Linked DNA regions of Homo sapiens. The protein of the gene in region 3 interacts with the protein of the main gene of each other region in a biochemical or structural test. Each region holds a gene or a part of one and is shown on either strand. Other genes may lie near its edges. The genes, in order: CNR1, CNRIP1 and NSRP1.

Region 1 (12,725 bases), on a different chromosome or scaffold from region 3:
GATAAGAACTAAAGATAACTACACTACTTTATGTCATGACTTTGACCTCTTATTAGCAATATGTATTAAACATGCCATGTGAGCAAGTTTGAGATGGAAGTTGCTTGCTCTCACATCAAACAATTTCAAAAGCAGCAAGAGAGGTGACAGCGTCTACTAAAAATCACCCACCTTACAAACCTGCCCCCCTAACAAATTTCCTATAGTTTTAACTCACTTGTGGTAACGTTGTAATGTGTTATATATAAAAACTATAACTATCTTAATATGCATTCTGAGATATGGTAATAACCTTCTGTATTTTCCTCCAACTTGTACAGCCCTAATTTCCAAAAAATAATAAACAACTAAAAGGATTGGCTAAAAAGAAACTGTCTTAAACCCATCAGTGTTTATGATAAAATTATAATCAAATGTGGTGATGTTCACCCTGGCATACTTGCAAGATTCTTAGAACGCATGGGACTGGCACGGATTTCCACCTATCCTGGAAAACAAGAATGGCCTCGTTTCCATTCAAGGTGGATATCTGCTTTAACTCTTCAGTGTCCATCTGCACAGCTGCTTTGAATGCGGACATTTCCCCAAATTTGTAGTATTTATTTAAAATCAGAATTACATGTTCAAATGTATAAAGGCAACATATTTAAATTTTTATTTCAGTCATGATTTACATCTATAAAAATGTTTATACATGTAAATAAAAGTGTGTTTCTATGTCCAGGTGTCCAAAATTACGCAATATATACTTTGATATTATACATATATTCTGGGTGAAGTTACTGTTTCTTTTAATCCAGGAAACATTTTGGAGAAATCTGAATTTATAAAGTCAATCCAATCTAATCTAAGAATATACAGAGAATTAAATGCTTATCAAAGTATTAACTAGCAATTCAGTGGCAAAAAGTTGAATCCCCCAAGTCCCCAAAAGCAGCATTCATGCAGCCATAATATAAAGTTACCATTTCTCTGAGGATAAGATTAGGAAAGAACTGGAGATTCAGGGAAGAAAACATGAAGTTAAAATTTTGGCAACACAAAGTATATAAACTGATTTTGATTTCCTCTTATTCTTTGACTTCTCTACCAGTCTTCAGTATATAAGAGAAAAATCAGCAAAGCAGGCTGCCTCTCAAAATACAGATATGCAGTATGTAAACCTGGCCCTAGCACAGTGTTTCAAACAATGTTGGGTCCACATTGTTTTAGAGCCAACAGCAGAATTATAAATAATTTAAACCCAAAGCCTGGTTTCACTCTAACTATTTGTCAGTTCAATTAGAAAATGATAAATACAAAAATAGAAGAAACAGACTTACACTGGTGGAGGCATGGCATCCTTTTCAGCAGGGAATGAAAGCTCTCATCTATGTTCTTTATGCAACTGAGCTAACATGGAATTTGGTAAGTAAGATGGAGCCTGTCCTTTAGGTTACTGCCTGTTATCATGCTTTAATTGCTTTAATTAGCATTTAATTCACTGTATATTCTTAGATTAGACTGGATTAACTTTATAACATAGATCAATTCAGACTTCTCCAAAATATTTCCTGGAATAAAAGAAGCAATAACTTTCACCCAGAATTCTTATAAATTCAAGAAGCTATAACCAAATCTTTCATTTTGCTAGTTATGTGTCATTAGGTATTTTCCAATTCAATTTGTTACTCTTGTTTTTGCAGCATTCCTGGATAGCTAGTTATGGGAAATAATCCCTTATTTGGCCAACTGTTTTCTGGTAAGAAACATTTGGTAAGCGTGGTGAACTATAAACTGCTATTAGAAGTTCCATCTCATAATAGTTTATTCTTACATAGCAAAGTATTTGATTTCTAATTCCAAACACTAATATGCAAGACAACCAAGAAGCCTGTCTAAATTTCCCCGTGGTTAATGTTAATTTTGAGTCAAAGCAAAGAACAGTGTTATACGACTGTTTTGAAACAGTTTCTCAGGCTTTGCCTTAGTAATTAATAAGCTGACACTGCATACTAAACACTTATCAACACAATCAATGGGGCTGCTTCCTTCTTGGGAAAATAGGTAAACCGAATCAAAGAGTTTTCTTTTGGAAGAGGCTGAAATATGCCACAAATACAGTGGTTCTTTTTGAGAATTTCATTCCCAGCAGTTTCATCTTGGTAACATTTAACAATTTCACTATTTTACCATTTTGAAATGCCAAAAAGAACACACTGATCCTGCAGCTAGGCTTATTAGAGAAGAGCAATCTCACAGGCAAGACAGAGAGGAACATGGTCCACTGGGAAATGGGTAACAGAAAAAGACAGAAAACAGTGGATAACAAACAAAGCCAAGCACTACTTCAATGTGAGACCTGGTGTTCATCAGAATTTAAAACTTTACACACTAAATAATAATCACTTATGGCTTATTTAAGGTTCTAGTCATAACATTCTTTTTACATACATATATTAATGTTATTAAAATTCAGGGGCATGAATATCTAATTTGCTTTCCTAACAACGAGTATGCAAGCACAGTAATTTTATTTGTGAAAGGCCAGAATTGGGTATTTCCACCTTGTGGCATCATTGTACCCCCATGGACACTGAGAAACACAATGAGACCTCTCCCCATCAGACACTTGATACATACCTCAGCCAAGAGCGCTCCTCGCCTGGAGTGGGAGACATCTTTGAAACAAAAAGAGTCGGTTTACAGTAAGTTCTCCTGATAAGCTAAAATGGATTAGTTTTTTAAAACCATGTCCCACATCAAGTCTCTTGCCCCACTATGGTAACTGCCATTGTGCCTACAAATAAGTGCCTGTAGTATGCAATGTTTAAAATTCTGGAGGTGCATGTCTTCTGCTCATGTATGGATATAATCTGAAAGTAATTTGTCTCACTTAAGAAACTATAAATGGCCTTTTATTTTTATAAAATTGCTCTTAACTGAGTTAGAGAGCGGGGGAGGGGGAGGAGTACCAGGGAAAAAAAGGACAGAGAAAAATCAATTAGTGTATCTTCCCTTGCAAACTGTCAGTAGGGTAGGATTAGAAAAGCAACACTTTAAATCACATAAAGTCCTATGGGAACCTTAAAGGTTGGTTGCTCTGAGCTTCTCAATATTCTGCAAAATAGATTGATGTCAGTGGTGACCCCACTAATACTCAGTGTCCGCTAAGCTTCCTCTAAGAAATTGCATTTCCCCCATTGTTCAAAAGATATTAACTTGGTAATAAAAATGAGGAGAAGTTATGGGACCCACAGAGATATCTTTCAACACCTTTAAAACCAGTAAATCTGTTCTAATCTCTTATTGGATTACATGCCCGAGGAGGCTTACTATATCAGGAAATCAACAACAAAGGCAAGAATAGCACTTATTTGGAGGAAAATAAAAAAAGATGGGAGGCAAAATGATTAATACGTTACTAAACATTTCTTTTGTTTTTTTATCTGTTCAATTTTAAATATCTGAGAGACAATCTATTAAAATCAGAAACATGCATGTTGCTTTTAAACTTCCAAATGACCAAATGACAGTTTCTCATGTCTATTACAGCAAACATATTTTTATTTGAGAGGTGATCCGTTTATGATTTGTAAGCCTTAACAAGAAATGTCTTTTAAAAATGCAACATTAACTTTAGTCATCTAACAGCTAGTTCTGAGTTAAACGGTTCCATCAACATTCAATTTTAGGTATTAGTTACATGGACATTTGTTTTTCCTCAAAGAGAAGTGGTTCCTGTAGCTTTTTATCAAAAGTTTATTATTTGACATACATCTCTTTATATGACATTTACTATTTTACATTAGTCAGTTTCTAGGCTTGCAGCAGAGATCGATGTATTTCCCTGGGAAGACTTAGCTGCTAACATGGTTTATAGGCATTCAGCACCAACTCAAGCGCCCGTTTTTCAAACATGCACAATTACCCATTTTCTACAAACAGACATCAGTGCATACAGAGCCAGGTGCACACACATTCAATAAATAGTAAATGGTAGAAATCTCCAGAAGTAGAACAGATCACAGTTAACAGGCTGGGGCCATACAGCTAAGTAAACACCGACGCACGATTCGCTCACACGGAATAAGAACTCCACGAAGGACACTTGGGGACCACACTGGTCGTACCCGAGGGGGCGGGAGGCGGAAAAAGTATTTCCAAACGCAACTCTGCCAGGTCTTACCCTTCGCATCCCCTGGTCCTCGGGACAGAAGCTCCCTTGGCACCTCTCGCCCAGCTCAGGGGCTGGTTGTCCGCTAGAACGAAATATCCCCCACTGACTACGGAGAGCTCTGCAGGGAGCCGAGGCCCCCGCCCGGGCCAAGGGAAGGCGCTGGCGCCGCGGGAGACAAGAAGAGGCGGAGGCGGAAAAGAAGTGGAGAAGGAAGGGGTGGCAGAGGGAGTAGCGTGCGGGAGGCGGCGCCGGCGCCGGGCTGCTGGCGAGGCGGGGTGGGGTGGAGTGGGGTGTGCCTCCGGCGGGCGGTCAGCAAGTCAGTCCGTCCGAGCGCCGGCGTCCCGGTCTCCAGCGCCCGCCCGCGACAGCGACCGGGACTGGCGCCCCGCTGCTCCGACCGCCGGCGAGCCTCGCCCCTTCCCAGGCTCTTCACTGGGTCCTCCCGCGAGCCCCGCCTGGCCCGGCGTGGGGCCGCCCGTCTCCGCCAGCCCGGGCGCCCGTCGCCTCGTCCCGCTCGCGCAGTCCCTGCCGCTCCCTCCGCTCGCGCTGTCTCTGGCTCCCTCTCGCTCCAGTCCCATTTATGAAGCGCGGTCCCATCACGTGTTAATGAGCCTTTGTCCTGCCCTGGCAGCGGCGGCGGCACAGACCCCGCCGAGGGAACTGCGCGGGGAGGGACCTGAGCGCAGCGCCCGTAGCCCCAAACTTTGCTTGGGGCGGGGGACCCGCCGCGGCGCCAGCCCTGGGGCCAGAGGGGACAAGCCTCTTCGGCCCGCGTCACCTACTTCTCCTCTTCCTCCTCCTCCTCCGCCGCCGCGCTCCCGGAGGCCCCCGCTGCCATGACCTCGCTGTGCTCCCGGATACCCTCACACCCTGACCAGGCCAAGAAGGGGCTGGTGCATGCGCCGCCCACGACCTCGGGGCCATTAATCACACGCTCCCGGGCAGCGCGCATCGCCAACACCTTCCGCGGGGGTCACGTCTGGGGCAGCGGGCTGAGCCGGAAGGGGAAGGGGAGCGGGAGCCCAGAGGCCGAGGCGCGCCGGGCCCGGGGGTGCGGTCTCGCGCCCCCTCCCTCCGCGCAAGGCCGCTCCCGTGGCAGGCGGCAGCGAGCTGGGCCCGGGGCCGGGCTGAGCTTTGGGACCGCGCTGCGCAGCCCCCGAGCCGTTCGCTACCTGGCTGCGGTCGCGCGGCCACCTGTCCTCCGCCCTCGGGGCGCCGCCCAGCTTCGCGCCAGGCGCCTTCTCCAGCGCCCGCCGCCCTTTCCCGGCGAGACCACTCGGGCGCGCCCCGCCCGCCGGTCCCCGATGCAAACAGTTGGGCTCCGTAGGCGGCTGGCTCCGCGCCTCCCGGCCCGGCGCGCCCCCTCCCCGGCCACCCGGGGCCCCGCTCCTCGCACCTTTTCGCTGGAGGAGGACGCCCCACTCCAGGGCCGGACTGGGGGCTCTGGGACTCGGGGGCGGCAGCGGCGGGCGCCTGGGGAGCCGCGGTGTGCTCAGCAGCCGCGGCAGGAATTAGGGGACATGCTCGTTAATTGTTTCCACTATCAGCCGCCGTCTGCCTCCTGTGTGCACGGATCAAACCTTAATTGGTCTTTACATTTATCATGGTGAATTGCGAACCTCCAAACAAGCCTGGGCCGCCGCTTCTGCCGAGGAGGCGCTCCCCTCCCCTCCGCCCCCGGGGCCCTGCAGGGTGTGCGGCGGCGGTCGTGGTTATTTAGACATCTTTATCTCTCGTGAGTTGGATCGGGAGAGGATCGCACGGTTTCCACCTGACGGAGCCACGTCACGTCGGCCACAAGGGCCCCGTGCTGGGCGCTGGGTTCGGTTCCCGGCCGTCCTCTTGTGGCCGCCTTGGCGTTCATTTTATGACACCTTGCCGGTGTTCCCAGACATCATCCCGCACCGCTCCGTTTTACCGACCTCCAGGTCTTCCCGCCCCTGATCAGACCCCAACAGCAACCGTACTATATCTGGACCCTATATTTGAACTACGTGGTGAGAATCTGTGAAAGCGAGCCTCTCAGGGAAAGAAGGAAGATTGTTGAGTTCAAGGTCCTGGAGGAGGGAAGGCTGTAAAACCGTTTTGGAAACGTCAGGCCAAATCGTACAAAGGCTTCCCGCAGAGCACTAGTGCAGTTTTTGAAAATCCCCCTAGACTGCTTTAGACTAGAAGTATTTCCGTCAAGCAAATGACCATTTGACTCCATTGAGAGAGAGAGTCCACCGCTGAAATGATTAAGTCCTACTAGGTGGGTGGTTAGAAAAGGTTATCAATAAAGTTCTGATGGACCCATCGATAGATGGAAGAATGACTGGGAGATAGATAGTAGATGTGGGATTAGTGCTGAGCCTTAACCCTGCTGCTTGGGGAAGGCTCTACTCACAGGCATTTTTAGCCCACCTCCATGGCAGAGACAGCTCCAGCGCAAGATTCAAAGGGAGGAGGCTTCAACATCTGTTGCTTTTTTCTTTTAGGGGTCGTGGTTGTTAGATTTTCCCTTCACCTCACACCCCTGGCAGTAGGAAATATTTGCAAAAATTTTCTCTCCTTATGACCTCGCAGACTCTGATTTCCCAAGAGGCCAGATGACAATAACTTCAAAGTCTCTCCTCCACCTGGCAGCTCAGTTTCAAATGACTGCTAGTAATTAAAAGAAAGGATCAAGGCAGCGCTTCCTCTGACTGTGATAAGGACATCTTCAGTCACAAGAAACCTGGGGGAGCTGGACTCCTAGAATGCTTTCAGGCCACAGGATTTCACTTGGGTGCTACCACCCTCCCCTGTAGCTGGAGGGCGTGAGCTGTTGGAGTGGCAGAGCTGTTCAACATCACTCAGCTAAACAACACTGACACACCCTGGTGGTGCTCCTTCTATAAGGAGCACTTTCCCACATGTTGATCTATACCTTCGTGGTGGTCAGCATCAACCTGTGAAAGGTATTCCATGGAAATCTTGTATCTCAACTCAGCCACACCAGCTTTTGCTTTTTCATAAAGAGGAACAATCTGATTATTGTGTCTCTAAGTCATCCCAAATATCTTCTGATTGACGTTGGGTTTCTTCACTGAATTCTATGAAATTCCAAGCAGAAACCTAAGATCGTTGATGGGCCAGTGTGACCTGTGGCCAGAGCCAATCACTCGGAATCTCATCTAGTAGTGACTCCAGCCGAGATAACTGTTTAGTTTGTTATTCTGTTGTTCAGGGTTGGGGGAAACCTGGAGCCTGACAGCTGAATTGTACTGACTTTCCATTTAGAGCTCAAGGATAATAATCAGTAATGGAGTCAAAATTTGACTTATGACCTGGCATTTTATCACCACAAGTGAATGCTGTGTCAAAAACAAGAGAGTTATGTTCCTTGGCAAATACTGTTCTTGTGGGCCTTCATGTGCATCTTTAAATTTTCGTCAAGGTATTAGACTGACAGACAGGAGAGCTGCTGTACTTTTTCCTTGGATTGGGGCAACTGGAAGAGGGGCAGAGATCAGACAGCAGATGGTGCGAGGGAAAGATGCTCTTCGGTACCTTGGAGTTCACATTTTGCAAGGATCACCTTTATGTGGGAGGAAATGATTTAGTTTCCACATGTGGTTGGCCATCCACTGTACTCCTGAGACAGTCAGCAAGAATGACAAATGCAAGCTGTCAGCCTCCCTATTAGGAACATTATGTTGAGAGCATTCATAAATTTAACATGAAGTGCTGAATGGCTCTTGGTCACCACAAACCCAGGTTGAATTTGAATCCATGACCTTCTGAGGAAATGCCCCGGCAGCCCCTGAACAGGCTTCAGTAGTCCCTTCAGTGCTAGGCTGCCTGGTTTTTCAGATCCTTATCCTTTTAAAATTAGAACAGGGCTATGATGAGCCAATTTACTGCCGTTCTGTGTAATTTAGGTTATTCACTCAGTGAAATGTAGAGGATGAGAGCACAGTTAAGGCTGCATATTTCAACTTCAAAGAAAGATCTCAATTTATGCCTGCCAAAGTGTTAAGAGTTCTACTGGCCATAGAGCATCAAGGAAACATGTCTGCTTTGGTGAGATAGCTGTGGATCCAAAAGGAGCTCTACTTCAAGATGTTTTTGGTTTTATTTTATTTTTTTTAACTTGCCATGGTTTGTCGTGCTTCTCTCCCACTCCCCAAATGGGTGGTCTGTTGGGGATGATGAGTCATGATTTCCTGGTTTGGAAAGCGACATCACTCTCTTTTAGAGTTTTGGGGGTTCGGTCCAAGTTTGGTCCTCACGTTTTCTTTGGTATTTTCAGTGTGATGCTCACACTACAGGGCTGGAACGCTCACTGATTAAGGACATTTTAGGAATGATATTATGACTACACGATTTCATTCTAATTCGGAGCATTGCTTTAGAGTTTCGACAGCTGTTATTGGCTCTCCCTTGAAGCATTTTGTTTTTCAGTGGCTCTGCATTACTAGATGGGAATCTGCTTCTTCACTCCCAGTCTAAAGGGTAAGTGTCAGTAAGCCTGCAGACTGGGCTGGGGCTCTGCCATCCACAGCGTAAGGTCTGAAATGCCTGCTCGTGAGTTGCTCCACCAGCGATGCGAGCAACTGAAAGAAACTCCTGCACCACTTCTGCGTGCTTCTCAAGAACTACAAGTTGGTGTTGGAAAAGAGATTCTTTTTCACTCAACTGTCAGAAATTAAACTTTGTGAGACCTGCTCTAGGTGGAGAAGTGGGTTGCCAGGGTAGGCAATGAATGGGTAAGGAAGGAAGGGCCATGGGCTTGTTTGACCTTGGGAGATACTGCGTTGTATTAGGTACAAAGAAAATTGCTGCCACTTCTCAGTGATCTTCCTGTATAACTAAATATTCGCTCATTAGGGCTTTTTGTTGTTGTCGTTCACCTTCTCACCTTCTTTCATTAAATCCAGATCTTTAACATCCCAGCTGAGCAGCACAGGGAAGGCTGAGAAATGGCAGGAAGGCATTTTCCTTTGTTCATATGTTTTGTTTTGTTTTTCATCACCAAGCAGAGGATTGGTAATGAGGAGATGGATCATCCTTTCATTTCAAACCATATGAGGAGTATGTTCCAACAGATAATAAACAAGCACATCGTGCAAAGAAGGGGGGTGAGGAGGCAGGTTAATAAAGCTTTTGTTCTCCTTTGATTAAACTCTTACAAACGAGTCATCAAAACTTTCCAATTAAAAGGCTATAAATATTATATGTCTAAATATTTCACTTTTAAAAAATAGGGCAAGCAGCAGTATTATAATGCTAAAATACGGCAAAGAATAGAAACATACTACTAAAAGATATGTACTTCTTAATCACTTGGCCTTCCGAGTAAACTCTCTTCTTGGTGTTCTTCATGGTTTATTTCAACTTCAGGTAGAAGCTTGGAAAAAGAAAAAGAAATGACCATCTATCTTGGTCTATGAGGATTAAATGAAACAATATACATAAAACAACCAGGCTGGTACCTGGAAGTTAGACTCTCAATCAGTGATTGCTGTTTTTATTTCTCCCACAACTTCTGCTACACTGTTGCTGCATCTGTGTTAAGTGTATGGAGAGGACCACAGCCTGGCTGAGGCTCTTTAATTCTCAAGCCATAGAGCAGGCAGCTGATTCATAAACAAAGTGCTCACATTTTGAGGGTTTCTTGGGGCTCAGCTGTGACTTCTTTGCTGTCTCTCCCATTCTAAACAGATGCTGTAGATTATCTGCTTTGCACAGTGGTCTAGATGTACTGATACCTTGAGAAGCCACCATTATCTACTCCCTGCAGTTCACCAGCTTTTCCTTGAAATGCAGCTGCCAGTAAAAATGAGAATTGGCAAAAGCCAATGGGGTGTGCGGTTTATCTTTGGATGTCTTGTCTGGCTTGTTGTATCTAAAACATTGTTAAAGAAACCGGTACAGTTTAGGCCTTATTGAAGAATTGAAAGGATCAGATTGTTTTTGAATTTTTTTTGTTTAAAGAACCATTAATTTAGACAGGCTGTAGTGGAGATTTGAGAACATTTGGGGATATAGATTTTACCCCCAGCTCTGGTGCTGATGGCCCAGGCTATCATGCACCATTTCTAGGCCTCATTTTTCTATTCTGTGTGATGGGAATAACACTAATATCTCTAATTTCCTTTATACAGTGTTTGTGAGTATCTAATAAGGTAGAAATATATTGGTAGAGCTTCAAGAAAAATTCAAACAATTATTATCAATAATTTATTTGATTTAATGGTCCACTAATTTCTTAGTTGTATCAAATTACATAGAATATTTTAATTATTCTTCTTATTTCAAGAAAGAACAATAAATAAATTGTGAATCTTAGAGCTTCGACAGCACTGATTTTTGTATTGAAGGCCCATAAAAGAGGATGTAATGTGTTAATAACCAAGTTAAAGACTCTTAAGCCAGAATACTAGATGAATGTAAAGCATGATTATAAGTATTGAAAGCAATTTTAGTTCATGGCACGATGATTTTTAAGCTGCGAATTAACTGATTGCTGTGGTCTAAGTGTTGGCGTCCTTCCAAAGTTCATATGTTGAAACTTAACCCCCAACATGATAGTACTAAGAGGTGGGAAGATTTGGGAGGGGATTAGGTCATGAGGGCTCCTCTCATGAATGGGATTAGTGCCCTTATAAAACAGGTTGAAGGGAGCTACCTTGCCTCTTTCACCATGAGAAGACACAACATTCATCTCTTCCATCACAGCTTGGTCTTGAACCTCCCAGCCTCCAGAACCGTGAGAAATAAATTTCTATTATTTCCAAATTACCAAGTAATTATACAGGTTTTTGCTATAGTAGCCCAAGTGGATGAAGACATTGATCTACCTGTGATTATTGCTACTACATCCTGCAAACTGTTGCCCACTGGGGGTTACTTTTTCAACTTAAGAGAACATAGCTTCCTTATACATAAAAATCTATAAAACATGCAATTTATTACCCTCTAAAAATATCCTTTTTCTCAAAACTGGGGTTGCTGAACGTTCAGGCTGCATATTCTCCCTATAGTAGGCATTGAGTAAAATAATTATAACTTTATCTCTGTATTGTATGTGGTTCTCAGGCATCAGAAGAACAACTGTAAGTGCAGAAATCCCATGCGAGAAGTTAATTTAGGAGCTATTAATAATTTCTCAGATATGATCTCATGTATTAACTCAGCACAACTCTAGTGTTAAAGTTATCAAAGAGCATATAGGGGGACGATGAACCATTGGTTAATGTTTTTAAAAAAATCTTTAGTTCTGAGCTTTATATCATGATCTGTTTTGAGGAACATCCTAATGTCAAGGCCACGTTCAGTCCTCTGACATCTTCCCTCCTTTGTCACCTTCTAGAGGAAGCCTTTCTTTCCCCCTTCTGCAGTTCTTTCTTCCTTTAATAGCTGTCTTTGTTTTAATAAGGAAACTGTCGGGGGCAGGGTGGAGATAAGGAAAGGAAAAATGAACTGAAGGAATAAAGAAACTACAGGAAAAGAGAAAATAAGAAAGATTTTTCAGAAATATTTATATCTCTTAGAGTCCCTTAAATACTAAAAATTAGAAACTCGAGATGGTATGTGACATTTGTACCCTGACACTTTGCCTGCTGTGAAGTGGTAATGGTGCTCAGCTTTCCCACGGCAGCCCCAAGAGTCTGACTTTAGAGAATTCCTCACATATTCTGCCAGGGCAGACACGTGACTAATTTATTTCTGTTCTAAAAGACCTCAGAGAAGAAGACTGGTCTAGAATATCTCTGAAAGTTAGAGCACATTGCAACAGAGTGGATATTTATTTTTATTTTATTTAAAAAAATGATTTAAAGATACTACGATGTCAAGATGACATCGTTAGGTGATATGGTCGTAATATGTTGGGACTAATGTACTCAAATGAGTGGGTCACTGAGTCAAGTCATGGGTTCATACTCAAGTTCATCATCTAATTTTTAGCCCTTTATTATTTTTGAGTAAAAATAGCATTTAAAAATACTGTTTTAATAAATACTGAAACATACTCATTATAAAGACAGACTAGGTAATAGAAAGTTTAAGTGAAAGTCTCCACCCCATACTCACGTCTCTCAATTCCTTACCCAGAGAAATTTGCTGTTAAGTGTGATGTATAGCCTTTTAGCCATTGTTTGTATATACAGTTGGTTGGATGAGTTAAAGTACAAATCCCTAGAAGTAGAATTTTCCAATCAAAGTTTTGTGCATTTCAAATGTTGAAAGAAAATGCCAATTGCATACCAAGCCCTTTAAATGGATTTGATCAACTCATTTAAGCACATGGCTGGATGCAAGTGAAAACCCCATCCGGCCACATCTCTAGGACAGCATTGGGCTAGCTCAAGTATGGTAGACCAGGGGACAGTAGCACTCCACACCCCAAGGGCTTTGGAAATTTGTAGGAGGAGAGGTATTTTGTTGTCGCCATGACTGGGAGGTTAAAATAAGGGATTGGGAGATTAGGCTTGATGCAGTGCACAGGGCGGTTCCACACAATTAAACATTGTCTTGTGTCCCACACAATTTACAAATATTTTGGTGGGCATTCATATTGGTGAAGAACCTGCTTATTATT
Region 2 (11,780 bases), on a different chromosome or scaffold from region 3:
GGGCGCCTGGTGGCAGCAGGGTCCCCCATGGGGTACAGGCAGAGGACTGAGGCCCCCAGGACAGCCCGAGCCTCTCAAGGGCCTCTGGCCTCGCGCCGCTCCCAGCGGGCCCGGGGGTTGGAGGAAGAGGTCACTCCCTGTCCGCCTTCGTCCCCTTCCTTCCCTTTGGCTTGTATTCCTCCATTCTCGCTTCCCTCCACCCATCGCAGTGACCTCAGTGGGTTCTTTAAAATCAGTGACAAGAAGCCAGGGTTTTTGCTTGTCTGTTTCTTATAAATTTCTCCTGCCTTCTGTCCAGCCTTGGGCGCGGAACCGCAGGCGGTCGGGGTGGAGCAGATGGGAGAGGTCCGCAGGGTTCAGCCACCGCAATCCCAGCCCTCCTGCGCGCGGTCCAGGCGGCCCACAGGGTCTGCCCGCAAGGCTGAAGGAGGGAGAAAGGAGGAATGAGGTGGAAAGGCAGGGGAGGGGTGATTACTGGGGCTCCCTGAGGGATGCTCCCCACTCCCTTCGCCATTCAGTGGCTGGGACCCTGGGGTGGAGCAGCAGACACTAGTAAGAGAGCGGCCGCCCCTTCTCTGGCCTAGTTTCACGGTTTTCCATGCCGTATGCTGTTCTTTTTCTCCTGAGTTTTCTGTTCAGGCTGGTGATGGTGCCTGGGATTAGCAACATCCCCACAGCAAGAGGATGTTTTTTGGTTTATCCATGGCAGGGACGATTTCTTGCCAGCGACCGCTGGATAATGCACCCAGTAGACCTCTGGCGGGAAAGTGTGTGGGAGCATGCAGTAGCCTACCCGGAAGAACTGCGGGTGGAGCCCCTTTACCTCTCGTTTCTACCTACCAAAGTCTAGTCTGCAGAGAGAAAATAAACCAGCATTTATTGTATCTACTACATATGGTGGGCATTATTGCGGGGGTGGAAGGACTTTGAATTCATCAGATACTACTTATAGCTTACGTTTTAATTCAGTAAACTTGTATTAGCCTTCCAAGGTGCAAGGACCTAGAACCAAATCTGGATGGTTTCTGGTACTCCTGATTCATCTATTTGTCAGCATCCCCCACAGCTCCATGCACCCTTTATTCTCACATTTCCCAGTGTTCTGTGCACCTGGATATAATCCAGGCTTTTCCTTTCCCTTCTTTCCTGCCAACCTTATCCCCGGAGTTATCTGTTAATATATTTCTTTTTTTTTTTTTTAGAGTATTCCTCTAGTGTTCAAACTAATCTAAAAGTTAATTTGTTAGGAATAAAACTATTTTTTCTGGTTACATTTTAATGCTATCAAGGATTTCTCAACTCTAATCCTGTGGTTCTCAAACCTGAGTATATATCAGAATCACCTGGAGTGCTTGTTAAAACACAGATGCTGGAGCTCTCCCTAGAAGTTCTAGTTTAGTCTATGGTAGGGCCTAAGAATTTGTTTTCTAAGGTCTGCAGGTGATGCTGATACTGCTGGTCCAGGGACTTGGCTTTGAGAACCATTATCCTAACACAAAAGAATGATGCCAGTGAGAATTTCTGATGGTGTAGAAGGCTTGAGGTACTCCAAATCATAGGACCCCTGATTGTTGGAACAGGAGAAAAAAAATATTAGAGGACGAGTTCAGTATTCTCAATCCTACCTGCATATTAAGATCACCTAGATAACCTTAAAATAAATGTACCAGTGTCCAAACTACATCCCAGGCCAACTGAATCCTAATGTCTGGGGCTGGGGATAGGTAGGTTTTTAATTCATAAATAGGAGAAGCACTGCCCCCTGAACTTGCAGAACTTTCTCCCGCACCACAATGCCCCCCTTAGTGAAACCCTGTAAGTTTCCTGCCTAGAGTTTTGGTCCAAAACAGGACAGGGTGCCTAGGCTAATTTCAACCGTATGTGGTCAACTCAAGTCTATTGCAGGAATATTTCCATTGGTGGTGTGCTTGTCCCACTGGAACTGAAGTCTAAAGAGCCTGATGGGGACAGAGTTGTTTATACGGGTACATATGACACAGAAGGTGTGACCCCAACGAAGAGTGGAGAACGGCAACCCATCCAGATCACCATGCCGGTAAGGCTTGCTTGCGGGTATAGGAGTATGGTGCCATGGAAAATGGAAACCACAGAAAAGAAAACAATCACTATCTCTCTGTAAGAAAAGGTGTGTTGGGAGCCAATTACTGTGGAAATTGAGTTGTGGATTTCCTTCAAGCATCTGCTGGAGAGAGAACTACTTAATTAATGCTCTTTTGCATGACAGACTGACCCTGTAGATGCTGAAAAGACACCATAAGCAGAAGCAGATGGTTCTGGAAGAGACAGAACCTACATTGCCATTTTCCCAGTTATAGTCTACTTCAGAACTGGTTTAGATAATTGGCTGTGAAAAGTTTCTGATTCCAAGTAGGCCACAATATTCTGGTTAAGAGAAAGCTGATTTGAATGACACTTTGCTACTTAAAGCTAAATGGAGGAGCCAAAAAAAGTGTCATGGGAAAAATACACCTCTTATATAATATCCTATAATACACCTATTTTATATAATATATACCTATTATATATACACCTATATAATATATATATACCTATATTATATATACCTATTATATATAATATCTGGTAATCCTATCAGATATCATATATAATAAAATGATATACCCTGGTAATATGGCCCCAAGTAAGAAAAAACAAATTGGTAGAAAGGATAGAGTCAAGACATAGATTTAACTATATGTGCAAACATAATAAATAGGTGATGAAGCAAGCTTGCTAAAGCACAGGAAAAGGAAGCTTCACCTAAACTGCTGCTTGCAAACTGGGCAGCCTTTTCCCTCTGCAAGAACAACCTTCAACTGTCTGCCCTCTAGCTTTATAGGAAGTATCACAAGGGTTCTCAAATATCGGTATGCGTGAGAATCTCTTTGGGAGTTTGTTTAAAATTCCAGTCCTAGGTTCCCTCTCCAGTGATCTTAGCTCAGTAGAGCTAGGGTGGGGACAGAGAAACTCTTAGCAAGCATACCAGATCCTGAAGAGGATGGTGTGGGAATGCACTTTGAGAAATGCCTATCTAACCTTTGGAAACTTAAAGTGTTCCCAGTCCCCATTATACTTTTTAAAACCACAATAGTCACATAAGGAAATAATCTAGCAGCTCATCCCTTTGCATCCAATGTTTGAACTATTTTTAGAAAGTGCTCTTGTTCTGTCAAAGAACCTTCAACACAGAAAAATACAAAAATGAGGGAAATGTATAATTCCTGCAAGAGAGAAGTGTTGTTAACATGTCAATAAATGTTCTTAGAAAGTTGTTTCTATGTCTTTGAATATATATGTGTGAGCCTGGGCAACATAGTGGGACCCTGTCTCTAAAAAAATTTTTTTTAGTTAACCGGGTGTGGTGATACCACACCTGTAGTGCCAGCAACTTGGGAGGCTGAGGCAGGAGGATCACTTGGATCCAGGAGGTTGAGGCTGCAGTGAGCTATGATCACACCACTGCACTCCAGCCTCGGTGACAAGAGTAAGACCCTGTCATTAAATATATATATTTGAGTATCATTCCATATATATACTTTTTTCTACTTGTATACATCTTTCAATGTCAAATATATGCCCATATATATATATGGAATGTCATTTTAAAGTCTGTATGGGTATTGTATTTTATGAATGTATCAAATTATCCTCAGTCACTTATTGCTGATTATTTCTGGTTTTCGGTATTATAAACAAAACCACATTACAAATCACTGAGTACTGTACAATTGTCTAATGTTTTCTTGATTTCTAGAAGAAATGTGCACGTTAAGGCATTTTATAAGACTGCCTCACTGACCTCCAGAAAAGCTAGGCAATTTACACGCCTATCATCTGTATTTAAGTATCCATTTCTCTCTGCACTAGGTATAGTTTGTCATGTTTACATATTTTTAATCTGACTGAAATACTTCAATTTTTACTTACTGTTAATTTGAAATCCTGACATATTCATTTACTATTTGTATTTGCTTCATGGATTATATGTTCATAGTTTTCACCCATTTTTCTGCTTAAGTGTATCTTATTGATTTTTTGAAAAATCTTTATAAATTTAAAATCGTCATTTTTATCACATCTTGAGTGTTCATTTAATATTTTAATTTTTATTTTGTTTACAATATAAAATATAAATTTTGTAGTCAAACATGTTAGCCTTTTCCTTTATTATTTTGCAGTTAAGATCCAGCTTAGAAAGTCTTCCTTGACTCCCAGATTAATTAATTATATATAGACATATACACAGTGGCATTTGTGTATTTTCATCTGAACTCTTATGGTCTCATTTGTTAAATTTTAGATGAATTACAGATTTAGATATTATTTCAGTTCTTACTTTTATATTGGAAAGTATTTGCCCACAGTGTCCTAATACAATTATTTAAATAATCTATGCTTCTCCAAAGGTCAGTTTCATAGAAATTTCTTATATTGCAAAAATTTTATCTCCTCCTATACTCCCTAATCTATTCCATTGATCTATCTATTGTTACACCAATACTGCATTGTTTTAGATACACTGTTTTTATAATATGTATTCATATACTTTGTAACTGACCACCTTACTGAACTTGCTTACTAAAATTTTTCAGCAAATCATCTTGGGTTTTTCATATAGATGGTCAGAATCTGAATATAACTGTCTTTTTTTTTCCTGGTCATATTGCATTGTCTAATGTTTCTAGAATAATGTTGACTGCTGCTAGCAGTCAACTACAGCTAGTAGCAGTAGTTGGAGATAATTTATCTTATTTGATATATTTGATGAATTACATAAAGTAATACACTTCCAAATACTAAACCTTATTTTTTACAATAAGCCCTACTTAAACATGTATTATTAATATATTGCTAAATTCTATATGCTCTTTTATTTAGAATTTTTAGATTTTTAAAATTTGCTTGCTTTATCAGCAAATATTTGAGGATTTCCTGTATATCAGGGACTCAGGGGGAAGAGTGGTGAACAAAATAGATAACCCGGGTTTCATAGAATTTCTGATCTTGAGGGTGGAAACATACTTTATACATGATTATCAATGATAAGGTAAATAATTGCTAATATGAAAAGTATAGCAAAAAAGTAGTGCTGTTAGAGTATATACCAAGGGTCTTATCCTAGTCCAAGATTTGCGGGATGGTTTTCTTGAGGAAAAAATGAAGGATGAATAAGAGTTGAGGAAAGAAAGAGCATTTGAGGAAAGAGTAGTTGTAAAAGTCAAGAGCTGGAGACAGCGTATGTATTCTAATGGATGAGAAGCCCAACATGGTGGGCATAGAGTGAGGCAAAGACAGTATAAGATAAAGCCAGAGAGGTAAGTAGGGGTTGGATGATATAGAACCTTTTTGCCACTGGATTTATCCTAATGACTATAGGAAATCATTGAAGTTTTTGAAATCAGCTTTGAGATATGATTAACATAAAATGCACCAACTTTACAGTTACATAGGTTTTGACAAGTAGATGCTACTATATAATCACCACCCCAATAAAGATAACAGAACACTTCTATTACCCTGAAAATTATTTGCAGTTAATTCCTCCCAACCTAACCTATCCTGAGCTTGCCATCTCAATATGTTAGTTTTAACTATGTAAGAATTTCATGTAAATGGAACAGTGCTGTTTGACTTCTTTCACTTAGTATAATGTTGAGATTCACCTATGTTGCACATATCAGTAGTTGGTTCATTTTATTTCTGGGTAGCATATTATGTTGTGTGGATATACCATAATTTCTCCCTTTACCAATAAATGGACATCTGGGTTGTTTTCAGCTTTTGCTATTATGAATAAAGCTGCTGTGAACATTTGAGTATAAGTCTCAGTGTGAACATATTTTCATTTCTCTTGAGTAAATACCTAAGAGGACAATTGCTAAATCACATGGTAAGTATGTGTTTATCTGTGTAAGAAATATCCACACTGTTGTACCATTTTGTATATCCACCAGCAGTGTATGAGAATTCTAGTTGCTTTACATACTCAATGTATGTCTTTTTAATTTGGAAATTCCAAAGACATAGAAGACCCAAAACAATCTTGTTTGATCTATATTGTAGTCCTTAAAACAGGTAGCATAAATCTTCTAGCTTTGTTTATTCTAAGTTCTTTTGCTTAATCTAGGTCCTTTGTGTTTTATATAGATTTTAGAATGAGCTTGTCAATTCCTCCAAAAATTGGGATATAGAGTTTCCATTAAACCTATAGGTCAACTTAAAGATATTTGACATCTTAATATAGAGTTTTCTATACCATGAACATGAAATATCTCTTAGGTCATCTTTAATTTTCTCCACAATATATTACAGTATTTCCTCTACAGACTTTATACATATTTTGTTAAATTTATTATTTCATATTTTTGAATAATGTAAATGGAATCTTTGCTGGTATATGGAAATAAAATCGATTTTTTTTGTATATTGATATTGAATCCTGAGACTTAGCTAATCTCACTAATCCTAATAGCTGTTTTTGGAGGATCCCTAGGATTTTCTAAATATGCTATCATGTCATCTGTAAATAGTTTCTCTTTTCTTTCCAATCTGTATTCATTTTATTTATGGCCTAATTGCAATGGCTAGGACCTTCGCAGTATGCTGCTAAATAGAAATGGTGAGAGTGGACATTCTTGTCCCTCAGTCTGAGAGAGAAAGCATTCTGTTTTTCAATACAAAGTATAGTAGCTGTAAGGTTCTTTATTGTAAATCTTTTTATCAGGTTAAAGGAGTTCTCTTCTATTCCTGGTTTACTGAATGTTTTTTTAATCATGAACGTATTATAACATGTTTTCAAATAGTTTTTCTGTATCTTTTGAAATGATCATAAGGTGTTTTATTCTGTTTATGGTAGATTACCTTGCTTTTTCAAAGTTAAAATAACCTTGAATTCCCAGGTTAAATACCACTGGTCATGGTTTATTCTCGGTATGTAAAACTGGATTTGATTCATTAATATTTTGTTAAGGATTTTTGACATCTATGTTCCGGGGGGGATATTTGTCTATGGTTTGCTTTTCTTATAATGCCTTTGTCTAGTTTTGGGTATCAGAGTAATGCTGGCTACATAAAATGATTCGGAAAGTGTTCATTCTTCTATTTTCTGGAAGAGTTTATATAGAAATGATATTTTTCTTAATGTCAGAATTCACCAATGAAGGCATAGATTATACTTTATTTGAAGATTTTTTATTACAAATTCAATTTCGTTAATAGATATCGGGCTATTCAGGTTTTATTTCCTGAGTTTTTGTAATTTATCTTAGAAGTCATTTATTTCAATTAAATTTTCAACTTTATTCCCATAAAGTTGTTTATAATCTCCGCCATTCTTCAGTGTCTTAGGATCTCTAATAATGTCTACTCTTTTACTCTTTGATCCTTTTCTTTTTTTTTTTTTTTTTTTTTTTCCCCGGAGATGGAGTCTCACTCTGTCTCTCAGGCTGGAGTGCAGTGGTGCAATCTCGGTTTACTGAAACTTCTGCCTCCCAGATTCAGGCAATTCTCCTGCCTCGGCCTCCCAAGTAGCTGGGATTACAGGTGCGCACCACCATACCCAGCTAATTTTTTGTATTTTTAGTAGAGATGGGCTTTTGCCATGTTGGCCAGGCTGGTCTCGAACTCCTGGCCTCACAAGATCCGCCCACCTTGTCCTCTCAAAGGGCTCAGATTACAGGTATGAGCTGCCGCGCCCGACCTACTCTTTCACTCTTGTTATTCAAAATTTTTATTTTTATACCCTCTGATTAGTCTAGCTAGAGATTTCAGTTTTATTGGCCTTTTCAAAATCCTAGCTTTTTTTTTCACATGCTTCACTCTGTTTTTCTACTTCATTGTTTTCTAATCCTATATTTATTCCCTTCCCTTGTTTGCTTTGAAATATTTTAACTTAAGTATAATACATATACAGTAAAATGATCCCTTCATAGAGTTCTTTCTGCTTGTCAGTAGTTTGGTTATGATGCATCTTAACTGGTTTTTCCCCCCTTGGGGATCACTGAATTTCTTGAATCTAGAGGTTAATGTTTTCACCAAAATTGGAGTATTATTAACCATTGTTTTGTTAAATACTTTTTTAATACTTCATTCTCTCCTTTCTTTGTAGGACCCCAACTAAACATATGTTGAAAAGCTTGGTATTATCCCATAAGTCTTTGAGGACATGTTCAATTTTCTTTCTTTTTTTAATGGATCTTCAGATTAGATCATTTCTACTGATGTATCCTTAAGTTCACTGATTCTTCTATTTCTAGTCTTGTGCTTATCTTCTAAATTCTATAACATTTTTTAGCTCTAGAATTTTCATTTGTCTTTTTTATAGTTTCAGTTTCTCAAGATTCCTTATGTTGGCTAATTGAGACCATGTTTTCCTTAATTTATCTGAGCACATTTGTAATTGCTGGTTTGAAGTAGTTAATAAATCCAACACCTGGCTCTAGTTAGAGTAAATTATTACAGCCTGACTTTTTTTTTTTTTAATATGGGTCACACTTTCATGTTTCATTACATGTCTCGTAATTTTTGGCCACAAACTTAACATTGTGGATAGTTTATTACCAACTCTAGTTTCTGCTTTATTCTTCTGGGTATTACTGGTTTTTTGTATTCTAGCTGGCAGTAAACATTCCTGTACTCAAACTTCAAATTCTATCTTCCAGCAGTATGCAGCAGCTGATCTCTTTGCTCAGTTTTTATAACTTCCAGTTGCTGCTTTTCTAGCCTGGTCTCCTTTTGTGCCCATGGAGCTTAGCAGTCAGCCAAGGAACTGGAGAGCTTATACTGAGATTTTTGGATATACCCACCCTGAGGTTCCCCTATTTCTCCAGCTGCTCTATCAATCCAAAACTGTTTTGCTTTATTTGAGATGGAGTTTCACTTTTGTTGCCCAGGCTGGAATGCAGTGGTGCGATCTCAGCTCACTGCAGCCTCCACCTCCCAGGTTCAAGCGATTCTCCTGCCTCAGCCGCCAGAGTAGCTGGGGCTACAGGCGCGTGCCACCACACCTGGCTAATTTTTGTATTTTTATTAGAGACAGGGTTTCACCATGTTGGCCACGCTGGTCTCGAACTCCTGACCTCAAGTGATCCACCTGCCTCGGCCTCCCAAAGTGCTGGGATTACAGGAGTGAGCCACCGTGCCTGGCCAATCCAAAACTCTTTACTCTGATACCTACTTCTGAGGTTAGGGAATGTACTCAAAATACATGCATGCATACATACATACATACATACATACATACGTAAATATAAAGAAGCTATTAATCTTAGCACAACTTTATCTTTCAAGGATTGACTTTTTGCTGGTTTGTCTGCTTTTTCAATGGCCCCTGTAGGGTGTCCATGTCCCACTATCCTTCATATGCAGTTAGCTAGGGATTACAGCAGAGTTTATAGTCAGATTTGGGGTTCTATTCCTTCTGCAGATCTCTTTCTTCCAGGATTTTTCTAGGTTATTTCCAGCTTCTCTGCCAGTCCTGATGCTGTCTTCTGCCACTTCCAACAGATAGGGCTGTCATTTTCTCCTGCCAGTCTTTCAAGGGGTTGAGAAGTACCCCTTTCTGGTAATGTGATAAGATAGGCACCTTAAAAGCACTCTAGTGCCAGTGCTTAGATTAGAAGTGGAGACAGAAAAGCAAAGAACAATTAGAAGGCCTTTGCAGTCTTAAATTTTGGTATTAGGGTTAATAGCTTTGTGAAGTGAATTAGGAACTTTTTTATAGTTTATGCTCTGAAACAATTTACATACCATAGAACTTAACTGTTACTTGAAAGTCTGACAGAAATTTCCCATAAAAGTCAGGACCAAAAATAAAGATATTTAGAAGGAATGTCTTGAATTCTCAATTTAGCACATGACTTTTGCCTTTTGGGGGTTTTATTGAGTGACTATTATGTTTTTCTGAGGAAAACATCCATTTCTACAGAATTTTAAAATGTATTTTTAGACCTCTAGAAATATTAAATGCTACTGATAGACCAGTTAAGCCATCAAAAACAACACCCTTAAACAAGTTTAGAAGCACTTTAACTGAGTTGCACATTGACACTGGGCTTTCAAAGGTTATGAAAGTTTGCTCTAAGAAATAGCTGTGTGTAAAAACAGCTCACAGCTAAATGCCCTAAATGTTTCATGTGGAGTGTTTTCATTTTTATTTTTGTTTTGTTTTGTTACAAATTAGAGCTAGAAAGGCTTTTTAACTTTTTTTTCTTCTGGGAAACTGAGAATATTTCTCTCCCTTCTAATGATGAGATGATTTAACTCCTTTTTCGGACTGTTTTCTGAATTCTGGATCCACCTGAGATATTTCAGTGCTCACTGAAAGGGGTGGGGAGAGGCAGGCATCTCTCTTGTTCATCTAGTCATGTGCTGTCTTATTGGGTAGAAAAAAAAAGTTCTGCAAAAACATTAAAATCACTGATAATTGACAATCTGTGTTTTTTTAATTTTTGCACCAGCAACCAGACAGCCCAGCATCAAATCTAAGCTCAAACCAAGCATTATGTTTAATATGCTTATATTTCAGACCATCATTATGTGTGTTTTTTCATTTTATATAAAATGCTAAATACCTTCTTAAATTCTTTGTAAAATGATATAGGTATAAATATATAAATTAAGGTTAAATAAGGTGGGAAAGTTAAATTATAAAATCTAAAATTACGGAAAAATCAAAATAGACTAGAAAAGTTAACTTGATTTTTAAATAGAAATCATAAAGAAAAATAAGAAATTATGTCTCTACACAGTATAAAGTGAGAATAAAACAATAGAAATATGACACTTCTTCAAGAGTCTGTGATATTTTAAAAATACCAATCTTCAACAGAAATATTGACAAAACATTTTCCAGAAGAAGAAACTAAGTTAAAATGTAGAAATGTGCATTCTTGTAAATGGTAGTGAAAAGTAAACTAGGAAATCTATTTTTTAAAAGTAATTCCCAATGACATCGGGGGTTTTTTTTGTTTTGTTTTGTTTTGTTTTGTTTTTTTAATAAGAGACAGAATCTCACTCTGTAACCCAGGCTAGAGTGCAGTGGCATGATCATAGCTCATTGTAACCTCAAACTCCTGGGCTCAAGAGACCTTCCTGCCTCAGACTCCTGAATAGCTGGGACTACAGCCACATGCCACCACGCCAAGCCAATTTTTAAATTTTTTGTGGAGATGGAGTCTCACTATGTTGCCCAGGCTCATCTCAAACTCCTGCGCTCAAGCAATCCTCTCACCTCAGCCTCCCAAAGTACTGGGATTACAGGGGTGAGCCACCACACCTGGCCCAATGATATCATTTTTCTAAACAATGCCTTCTTTGCTGTTAACATTGTAAGATTGTTTGTATACTTTAAAAGGAGCAAAATGGTCATATGTGGGAACAGCCATAGAGATTCATTTCTTTTGACCAAATAATTCCACTCCTATTAAAGTAGACATATATACAAAATTATTTATTAAAGCACTTTTTGTTAGAGGGCAACTGACATATCTAACATCTGGGGAGTAGTCTAATTGTCATGATACATCACGATAAGAGTCCTATGTCATCATTAAAATTGGAACAATGAGGCCAGGCACAGTGGCTCACACCTATAAATCCACCACTTTGGGAGGACAAGGCAAGAGGATCGCATGTGGGCAGGAGTTCAAGACTAGCCTGAGCAATATAGCAAAATCCTATTTCTACAAAATAAAAAATAAAAAATGAGCCAGGCGTGGTGACATATGCCTGTAGTCTCAGCTACTCCAGAGACTGAGGTG
Region 3 (8,940 bases):
CGGGAACATACCACCACGTCTGGTTACTTTTTGTATTTTTTGTAGAGACGGGGTCTCACTATGTTGCCGGGGCTGGTCTCGAACTCCTGGGCTCAAGCAATCTTCCTGCCTCAGCCTCCCAAAGTGTTGGCATTACAGGTGTGAGCCACCATGACCAGCCCTGTAAATACTTTAATTGACAAATGCTCATCAGCTTTTTGGACAGAGTCTCGCTGTGTCGCCCAGGCTGGAGTGCAGTCGTATGATCTTGGCTCACTGCAACCTCTGCCTCCCAAGTTCAAGTGATTCTTATGCCTCAGGCTCCCAAGTAGCTGGGATTACAGGCATGCACCACCACACCTGGATAATTTTTATATTTTTATAGAGACGGAGTTTTACCATGTTGGCCAGGTTGGTCTCGAACTCCTGAGCTCAGGTGATCCACCCACCTCAGCCTCCCAAAGTTGTAGGATTACAGGCGTGAGCCACTGCGCCCATCCTCTTCAGCTTTTAAGTAGAAGAAAACCAAGTCTATAACATTCTGTCTAAGCATGTACTATGTGTTTAGAGTGCCAGTCGGCAAACTTTCTGTAAAGGACCAGATAGTATTTTAGTATTCATATTTTAAGACTTTAAATTTATAAATTCATATTTTGAATGCCAGATCATATTCATACTTTAGGGCTTTTTGTGTATATGATCTCTGTCGCAGTTACTGAGCTCTGCCTTTGTAGTACAAAAGCAGTTGTGGACAATACATAAATGAACAGGGCTTTGTTTCAATAAAAATTTATTTATGAAAACAGGCAACAGGCCAGATTTGGCCTGCAGTTTGCCAACTCCTGATCCAGCGAGTAGTTTACACACTGTATGTTATATACTGTATGTCTGTAAAATGAAACTGCACTGTGCCTTATTGAATATATTCTAATTTTTGCTTTCCCTCTGTTAGCATGTTTGGATGTAACCAAGCAGAAAGATCTCAGTGGATTTTATAGGCACCTATTAAATCAAGCAGTTGGTGAAGAGGAAGTACCTAAATGCAGCTTTCGTGAAGCCAGGTGAGGAGACGTGTATGAAATATTTTGAAGAAAAATACTGTTAATAATCTGTGGTTGTGGGGTCATTTTAACCCTCTGAAAGATGGAAGATTACAACATTGCATATTGTGTTGTCAGCCAGCCTTACCTAACTGAATGAATGGCTAGAAATTTGCAGTTTCTTGATTTTAAAACCTACAGATTTAGTTTAAGATCATTTTTATTCTGCATTTCACAGAAATTGTTACATTAAAACAGTGATTGAGTTTAATATTATTGTAAAACCAAAGACAGACTTTTAATGTATAAAGTTTCTGAATTTTTAAGTGATTTATGGGTCTTAACAAGGGAGAGCAAAATCTTCAAGGGAAAGCAAAATCAAATTGTAGTTTTTTCTTTTTTCTTTTTTTTTTTTTTTTTTGAGGCAGAGTCTCACTCTGTCGCCTAGGGTGGATGGAGTACAGTGGTTCAATCATAGCTCACTGCAGCCTTTGCCTCATGGGCTCAAATGATCCTCCCAAGTAGCTGGGACTACAGGTGCAAGCCATCATGCCCAGCGAATTTTCTTTTTGTGTTTTTTGTTGTTGTTGTTGTGTGTGTGGTTTTTTTTTTTTGTTTTTTTTTTTTTTAGATGGAATGGAGTCTTGCTCTGTCACCCAGGCTGGAGTGCAATGGCGCGATCTCTGCTTACTGCAACCTCTGCCTCTCAAGTTCAAGGGATTCTCGTGCCTCAGCTTCCTGAGTAGCTGGGACTATAGGTGCATGCACTACGCCCGGCTAATCTTTGTATTTTTAGTAGAGATGGAGTTTCACCATGTTGGCCAGACTAGTCTCGAATTCCTGACCTCAGGTGATCCACCCGCCTCGGCCTCCCAAAGTACTGGGATTATATGCATGAGCCACCACGCCCAGCCTCTTTTTGTATTTTTGTTGTGGAGATGGGGCTTTATGTTGCCCAGGCTGGTCTTGAACTCCTGGGTTTGAGGGATCCCCCCTCTATCTCAGCCTCCCAAAGTGCTGGGATTACAGGTATGAGCCACTGCACCTGGCTGCTTTTTTTTTTTTTTTTTTTTTTTTAAATAAGAATGTGGGTATTCCTCATGATCCTTAAAATGATTGGTGCCTGGTACCTTAAAATGATTTTGCTGTCAGAATTAAGGAGAAAGTTGGAAAGAATTAGGTGTCTACAATATAAGTCTTATATACATGTTCAGATAGTGTATAAAAAGGAAAGTGGTTTGTTTTCATAAATAGAACCCAGCCTTCCTAAAATGTAAGACTTACATATCGGGGCTAGAACTGCACTGTTAGTATGTAGGCACTAGTCACGTGTAGCTACTTAAATTAATTTAAAGTAAATAAAGTAGGTTGGGCGCAGTGACTCACGCCTGTTATCCCAGCACTTTGGGAGGCTGAGGCAGGTGGATCATGAGATCAGGAGATGGAGACCATCCTGGCCAACATGGTGAAACCCTGTCTCTACTAAAAATACAAAAATTAGCTCGGCATTGTGGCACATGCCTGTAATCCCACCTCCTGGGGAGGTTGAGGCAGGAGAATTGCTTAAACTCGGGAGGCGGAGATTGCAGTGAGCTGAGATAGCGCCACTGCACTCCAACCTGGCGACAGAGCCAGACTCCATCTCAAAAAATAAAATGGCTGGGCACGGTGGCTCATGCCTATAATCCCAGCACTTTGGGAGGCCAAGGCGGGCGGATTGCGAGGTCAGGAGATTGAGACCATCCTGGCCAGCACGGTGAAATCCCGTCTCTACTAAAAATACAAAAAATTAGCCAGGCGTGGTGGCGGGCGCCTGTTGTCCCAGCTACTTGGGAGGCTGAGGCAGGAGAATGGCGTGAACACAGGAGGCGGAGGTTGCAGTGAGCTGAGATTGCGCCACTGCACTCCAGCTTGGGTGACAGTGCAAGACTCTGTCTCAAAAAATAATAATAATAAATAAATAATAAAATTAAGTAAATAAAATTTAAAGTTTTGATCACAGCGGCCACATTTCATATACTCAGTTGCCATATTTGGCTGGTGGTTGCCATACTGGGGACAGCTCACATATGAACATTACCATTTCTTGAGGCATTTCTATTAATGCTGGTCTAGAAGGTAAAGGATTAGAGGATTTTTGAATAAAGTTATAAGGTATTATAGGAATGGTGAGATGATTATGCCATAATTATGTAGCTGAAGGTAAAAGAGTCTGTCCTAAGCAAAAAAAAAAAAATTTTTTTTAACAGGAATGTTCTGGGTAGATCTGAGTCTGTGTTGCTAAGGAAGGGAAGAGGTAGGAGAATAGAATTAAGGTGAGGAGAGGAAGTTTATGCCCCACTCCCTCCCTACGCTGCTAGGCTTTGATTATAAAATTGGTGAGAAGTATGAACCTAAGAAAATGTATTTGAAGATTCAGGTTTTGAATGGAAATTATATTACGTTATATCTTTGTATTAGAGTTTCATCTGGAATATTTATTAGGCTGCCATGAAACTCTGTAATGTCGTTGACATAGTTGTACTTCTTAGAGTCTAATAATCGAATTCCTAACTGTTAGTGGGTCCTTTAGCCAAGATAGTTCTGCCAGTAATTCCTGGAGAACCAAAGTTGTTGCACCATTAGTGTGATTAGTAAGTGATTAGTAAGAATCACTGAGTGGTTCTTATTTACATTATACTCATACTATAAAGTTAACTGTACTTGCCAGCTGGAACAATGAAGGTAATATAATTTTAGTATTGTTGATTCTAATGGACAAATTAATATATTTCCATTTTGTTGTGATAGGTGCCAAGGAGTGAATCAGGATACACTCATGAGAGAGAGTAAATATTTAGGATTATATTTGCCACTATTTTGCTGTGCAAAGATTATCTTCATGTATTTCTAGGACTATTTTTATAATTTTTTAAAAAGAAAAAGGCCAAGCATGGTGGCTCACACCTGTAATCCCCGCACTTTGGGAGGCCAGGGTGGTTGGATCACCTGAGGTCAAGAGTTTGAGACCAGCTTGGCCAACATGGCAAAACCCTGTCTCTACTAAAAATACAAAAATTAGCTGGGCATGGTGGTGCAGGCCTGTAATCCCAACTACTCGGGAAGCTAAGGTGAGAGGATCACTTGAGCCTGGGAGGCAGAGGTTGCAGTGAACCGAGATTGTGCCACTGCACTCCAGCCTGGGTAACAGAATGTCTCAAAATAAATAAATAAGAAAGGAAACAACAAATCCAACAGTCACAACTTAAGCTTCATGTTGTGAAAATAGAACTTAGATTCAGAACATTTATTACTTTTCCCAATTATTCTTTGTCTTAGGCTTACCAAAAAATGAAGACCTGTACAGACCCTTGCCTGTAGGTTCTAGTAGTATAGTAGACAAGGGCTAATTTTCTCTTTTCACTTCTACAAATATTGAAAATATTCTGAATGGTATGAATTTGAAAATACTAGTTTGCATAGACATCAGGACCTTTTTGCATTTGGATAATCAGACAGTATATATCACTATAGGTGTATTGATTTGAGTATTGATAAAAATTATATGAACCCTTCATTTGCTTATTACAACTGATAATGTGGCATTTTTTTCTGCCCTTTTTTGTTTTTTGTTTCTAAGATCTGGTATAAAGGAAGAAAAATCAAGGGGCTTCTCCAATGAAGTAAGTTCAAAAAACAGAATACCACAAGAGAAATGCATTCTTCAAACTGATGTGAAAGTAGAGGAAAACCCAGATGCAGACAGTGACTTCGATGCTAAGAGCAGTGCGGATGATGAAATAGAAGAAACTAGAGTGAACTGCAGAAGGGAAAAGGTCATAGAGACCCCTGAGAATGACTTCAAGCACCACAGGAGTCAAAACCACTCTCGGTCACCTAGTGAAGAAAGAGGGCACAGTACCAGGCACCACACGAAAGGATCACGAACGTCGAGAGGACATGAGAAAAGGGAAGATCAGCACCAGCAGAAGCAATCCAGAGACCAAGAGAACCATTACACTGACCGTGATTACCGGAAAGAAAGGGATTCTCATAGGCACAGAGAGGCCAGTCATAGAGATTCCCATTGGAAGAGGCATGAACAGGAAGATAAACCAAGGGCGAGGGACCAAAGAGAAAGAAGTGACAGAGTATGGAAAAGGGAGAAAGATAGGGAGAAATATTCCCAAAGAGAACAAGAAAGAGATAGACAACAAAATGATCAGAACCGACCCAGTGAGAAAGGAGAGAAGGAAGAGAAAAGCAAAGCAAAGGAAGAGCATATGAAAGTAAGGAAGGAAAGATATGAAAATAATGATAAATACAGAGATAGAGAAAAACGAGAGGTAGGTGTTCAGTCTTCAGAAAGAAATCAAGACAGAAAGGAAAGCAGCCCAAATTCTAGGGCAAAGGATAAATTTCTTGACCAAGAAAGATCCAACAAAATGAGAAACATGGCAAAGGACAAAGAAAGAAACCAAGAGAAACCCTCTAATTCTGAATCATCACTGGGAGCAAAACACAGACTCACAGAGGAAGGGCAAGAGAAGGGTAAAGAACAAGAGAGACCACCTGAGGCAGTGAGCAAGTTTGCAAAGCGGAACAATGAAGAAACTGTAATGTCAGCTAGAGACAGGTACTTGGCCAGGCAGATGGCGCGGGTTAATGCAAAGACCTATATTGAGAAAGAAGATGATTGATGGCTACCCCAAGAGAAAGATTTAAGGAAGCACAGAAAACTGTAATTCCTGGAACCTGCTGCGTAAAACCATAAAGGAGTGTGTTACCAGTAGTTTGGAGGGCATTTTTAAATTTATTTTCAAAATTTTAAGTTAAAAGTCAGTCTTACAGCTTGGATGTTTGGATGTGGATGTTTGGCTGAATTTATATATAGTGTGTACTCATCAATACCACATTCTTTGTTGTATTCAAGAACCGTTAAGAGTGTGCTAATTCCCTGTAGGTACATAATGAGGAAAATTTGCTCCACTACAACCATTAAAAAATAATTTTGGCCAGATACGGTAGCTCGTGCCTGTAATACCAACATTTTGGGAGGCCAAGGCAGAAGGATATTGAGGCTAGGCATTCAAGACCAGCCTAGGCAGGATAATAAGACCTTGTCTCTATTTAAAAAACAAAAAGCCTAGCATGGTAGTCCATGCCTGTAGTCCCAGCTGTTCGAGAGGCTGAGGCAAGAAGATCACTTGAGCCTAGGAATTTGATGTTACAGTGAGGTATGATCATGCCACTGCACTCCAACCTGGGCAACAGAATGAGACCCTGTCTCTAAAAAATTTTTTTTAAATAAATAATTTAACTCTTCTAATAATGTTTTGTTGCAGGAAATGTATTTCAGATAAAATATGGATTTGAAAAACAGAAAATATACTTTATGTTCTGAAATTTGTATTTAAGTATAAAATGTGAATCATCTTGTCTAAATAGCTTACAGCATAGTTGGCTTAAATGAAAATAAAATGATATGCTTATACATTTTATTTATGCATTTATTTTAAAATAATTTTACTCATGTCACAATTCATCTTTTCGCTTTTAGTAGAAATTAATTTGTAATTCTGAAACCTTGACAAGTTAGTAAATTGGTTATATATGTAAATCACTTTTAGTTAAAGGTGAAGCTGTGGAGACATTAGCCTAAATGAAATTAGCTAAAGATCTAGGTGGCCTGTTTCTAAACATGTCTTGTTTCACCTACTCTGAAAAAGATAGTGCAGTTTATTACAAGTTCCACTTGTGTATAAAAATAAAACTAGTATCTTTCTTCTGAGTCTTTGAAACTCAGGAGAAATAATTATACACTGTAAATATTTTATTTATGGGGAAAGATGAATGCTGTGGAGAAAATAGTTCTCTACTAGGTCTTCCCATTAAGAAAATGCTGTTCATATATCTCACAATACTCTACCTAAAGAGCACACTTTCTTATTTTTAGAAGGATAAACTTGGTTTAATAAGAATGCTGACTAGATGAAATATATTAAGGGTCAGATTTAGAATTTATAAATCATTTTATTGTACCTTTAAAACCAGAAAGGAAAAGTCACAGGAAAGTTAACGCCCAAATCTCTGACTGATAGATTAAATGTCAGTTACATCCTAATACTCTAAAGTCAATCAGTGACAGTGACAAACCCCCAAAATCACTGACTTGGTGTACAAAAAGGGAGCAACATAACATCAGTATGGAAAGGTAAAAGGGTGACATCATGGAAGGACCATGAGTGACAGAAAAAATCTTTAACTTTGGTGGGGAGTATGGTTTCTTTCTTGGGATTGTTTTATAACTAGAGCCATGCATTGGGAAGATTAATTTGATCGTAGTGTGCAAGGTAGTCTAGGAGGAGAGACTGATGTCAGAGACATCTGATGATAAACTCAGTTTCCCTCTCCCAGAGGGAAAAGCTCAGAGACTTTTACAAAGCCGCTTGGATCCTTAGATAGGAAAGCTATAAATTACTTTTATTAACCAACTTAATTTGACATAAATCAGGATGAGAGACTGCAAATGAAGAGTTTTCTTCTGTCTCCTCCAAATATACAGAATGTTGGTTTTGCCTCTCTGGTATTCATTCCCCCTTTTCCTGGTAACAGCAGGATTTGCCTTTGAGAAAACACACCTTTACTACTCTTAGTCCACGGGTTCAAATGGGGCAGAATAGCCTACAGTAAGGGTATGTGACTCAAGCTAGGCTGATGCTGGTCATGTTGTCAGAATTTACAGAAAGATGTTTTCTGTTGTCATTGCTGATTATGGCGATGAGGTAAGTCTGGAGTTTCATGGAGAGTGCCTTGCTGCCTGGCAGAAAAAAAACCCACAACAAGAAAGCCAGACAGAGAGAAGAACAAAAAACCTGATGATTGCTTTTGCATCTCTGGCTCTAGTGTAGCTTTTTTTTTTTTTTTTTTTTTTTTTTTTTAAGACATTTAAACCAATACTTTTCCCTTTTTCTGTTAGGTTAGTTTGAATTGGATTTCTGCTGTCACAACCCAAAAAGTCCTATTTGATACAAGGTTCCATTCATGATAGCTCTGTGCCAAAAGTTACCAGAACACTCTTAGTAAATTTTTTTGTTGTAGTATAAGGTTTAAATTGCACATGGAGTTTACAGCTTAATGGATTCACACAGTACACCTAGTTTAAAAAGACATTACCTGTGCCATAGGAGCTCCCCTTAAACTTCTCTCCCAGCCTACTCTTTCTGATTTTTAGCACCTTAGAGTAGTTTTGCTTGTTTTGTAGATTCTTTACTACTACATTCTGTTGATGGACATTGGTTATTTCTTTTTGGGGTTATGAATAATAATATCTTCTAGGTAATGTATCTTCTAGGTACATTCTTGCGCTTGTCATCTAGTACATACATGTATGTTTTGGTTGGGTAATTCTGAGGAATGGAATTGCTGATTCATAGGGTATGCTCATGTTGAGCTTTAGTAGTTAACTACCAATTAGTTTTCCAGAATATTTGAACTAAAAGGCACTCCCTCCATCAATGTATGAGAGTTCCAGTTGCCCCACATCTTGCTCACCCTTGGTATTTGTCTTCTGGCTTTTTGTCTTTTAGCTACTCTGGTAGGTGTTGTGGTATCTCATGGTTTTATTTTGTGGTTCCCTGATGGCTCTCACATCTTTATTAACATTTAACATTTGGGTATCTTGGCGGGGGTTGGTATTTGTTTTTGAGACAGGGTCTTTCTCTGTCACCCAGGCTAGAGTGCAGTGATGCAATCATGGCTCACTGCAGCCTTGACCTCCCAGGGTGAAGTGATCCTCCCACCTCAGCCTCCCAAATAGCTAGGACTGTAGCTGCATGCCACCACGCCTGGCTAATTTTTTGTAGAGACGGGGTTTTACTATGTTGTCTAGGCTGGTCTCAAACTCCTAGGCTCAAGCAATTTCGCCTGCCTCAGCTTTCAA

What was found.
Region 1: the proteins of NSRP1 (region 3) and CNR1 form a complex in vitro, tested with the Homo sapiens proteins (one study listed by BioGRID).
Region 2: the proteins of NSRP1 (region 3) and CNRIP1 form a complex in vitro, tested with the Homo sapiens proteins (one study listed by BioGRID).

What each region holds. Positions count from the first base shown.
Region 1 is NC_000006.12:88,161,635-88,174,359, forward strand, and holds the start of CNR1 (cannabinoid receptor 1), read right to left. Parts: upstream 4,714-12,725; 5' UTR 4,169-4,713; exon of another isoform or gene 4,113-4,168; intron 2,661-4,112; exon of another isoform or gene 1,323-2,660; intron 1-1,322. UniProt on the Homo sapiens protein: G-protein coupled receptor for endogenous cannabinoids (eCBs), including N-arachidonoylethanolamide (also called anandamide or AEA) and 2-arachidonoylglycerol (2-AG), as well as phytocannabinoids, such as delta(9)-tetrahydrocannabinol (THC).
Region 2 is NC_000002.12:68,307,433-68,319,212, reverse strand, and holds part of CNRIP1 (CB1 cannabinoid receptor-interacting protein 1), read left to right. Parts: intron 1-1,895; exon of another isoform or gene 1,896-1,905; coding exon 1,906-2,056; intron 2,057-11,780.
Region 3 is NC_000017.11:30,179,977-30,188,916, forward strand, and holds the end of NSRP1 (nuclear speckle splicing regulatory protein 1), read left to right. Parts: intron 1-931; coding exon 932-1,040; intron 1,041-4,638; coding exon 4,639-5,698; 3' UTR 5,699-6,499; downstream 6,500-8,940. UniProt on the Homo sapiens protein: RNA-binding protein that mediates pre-mRNA alternative splicing regulation.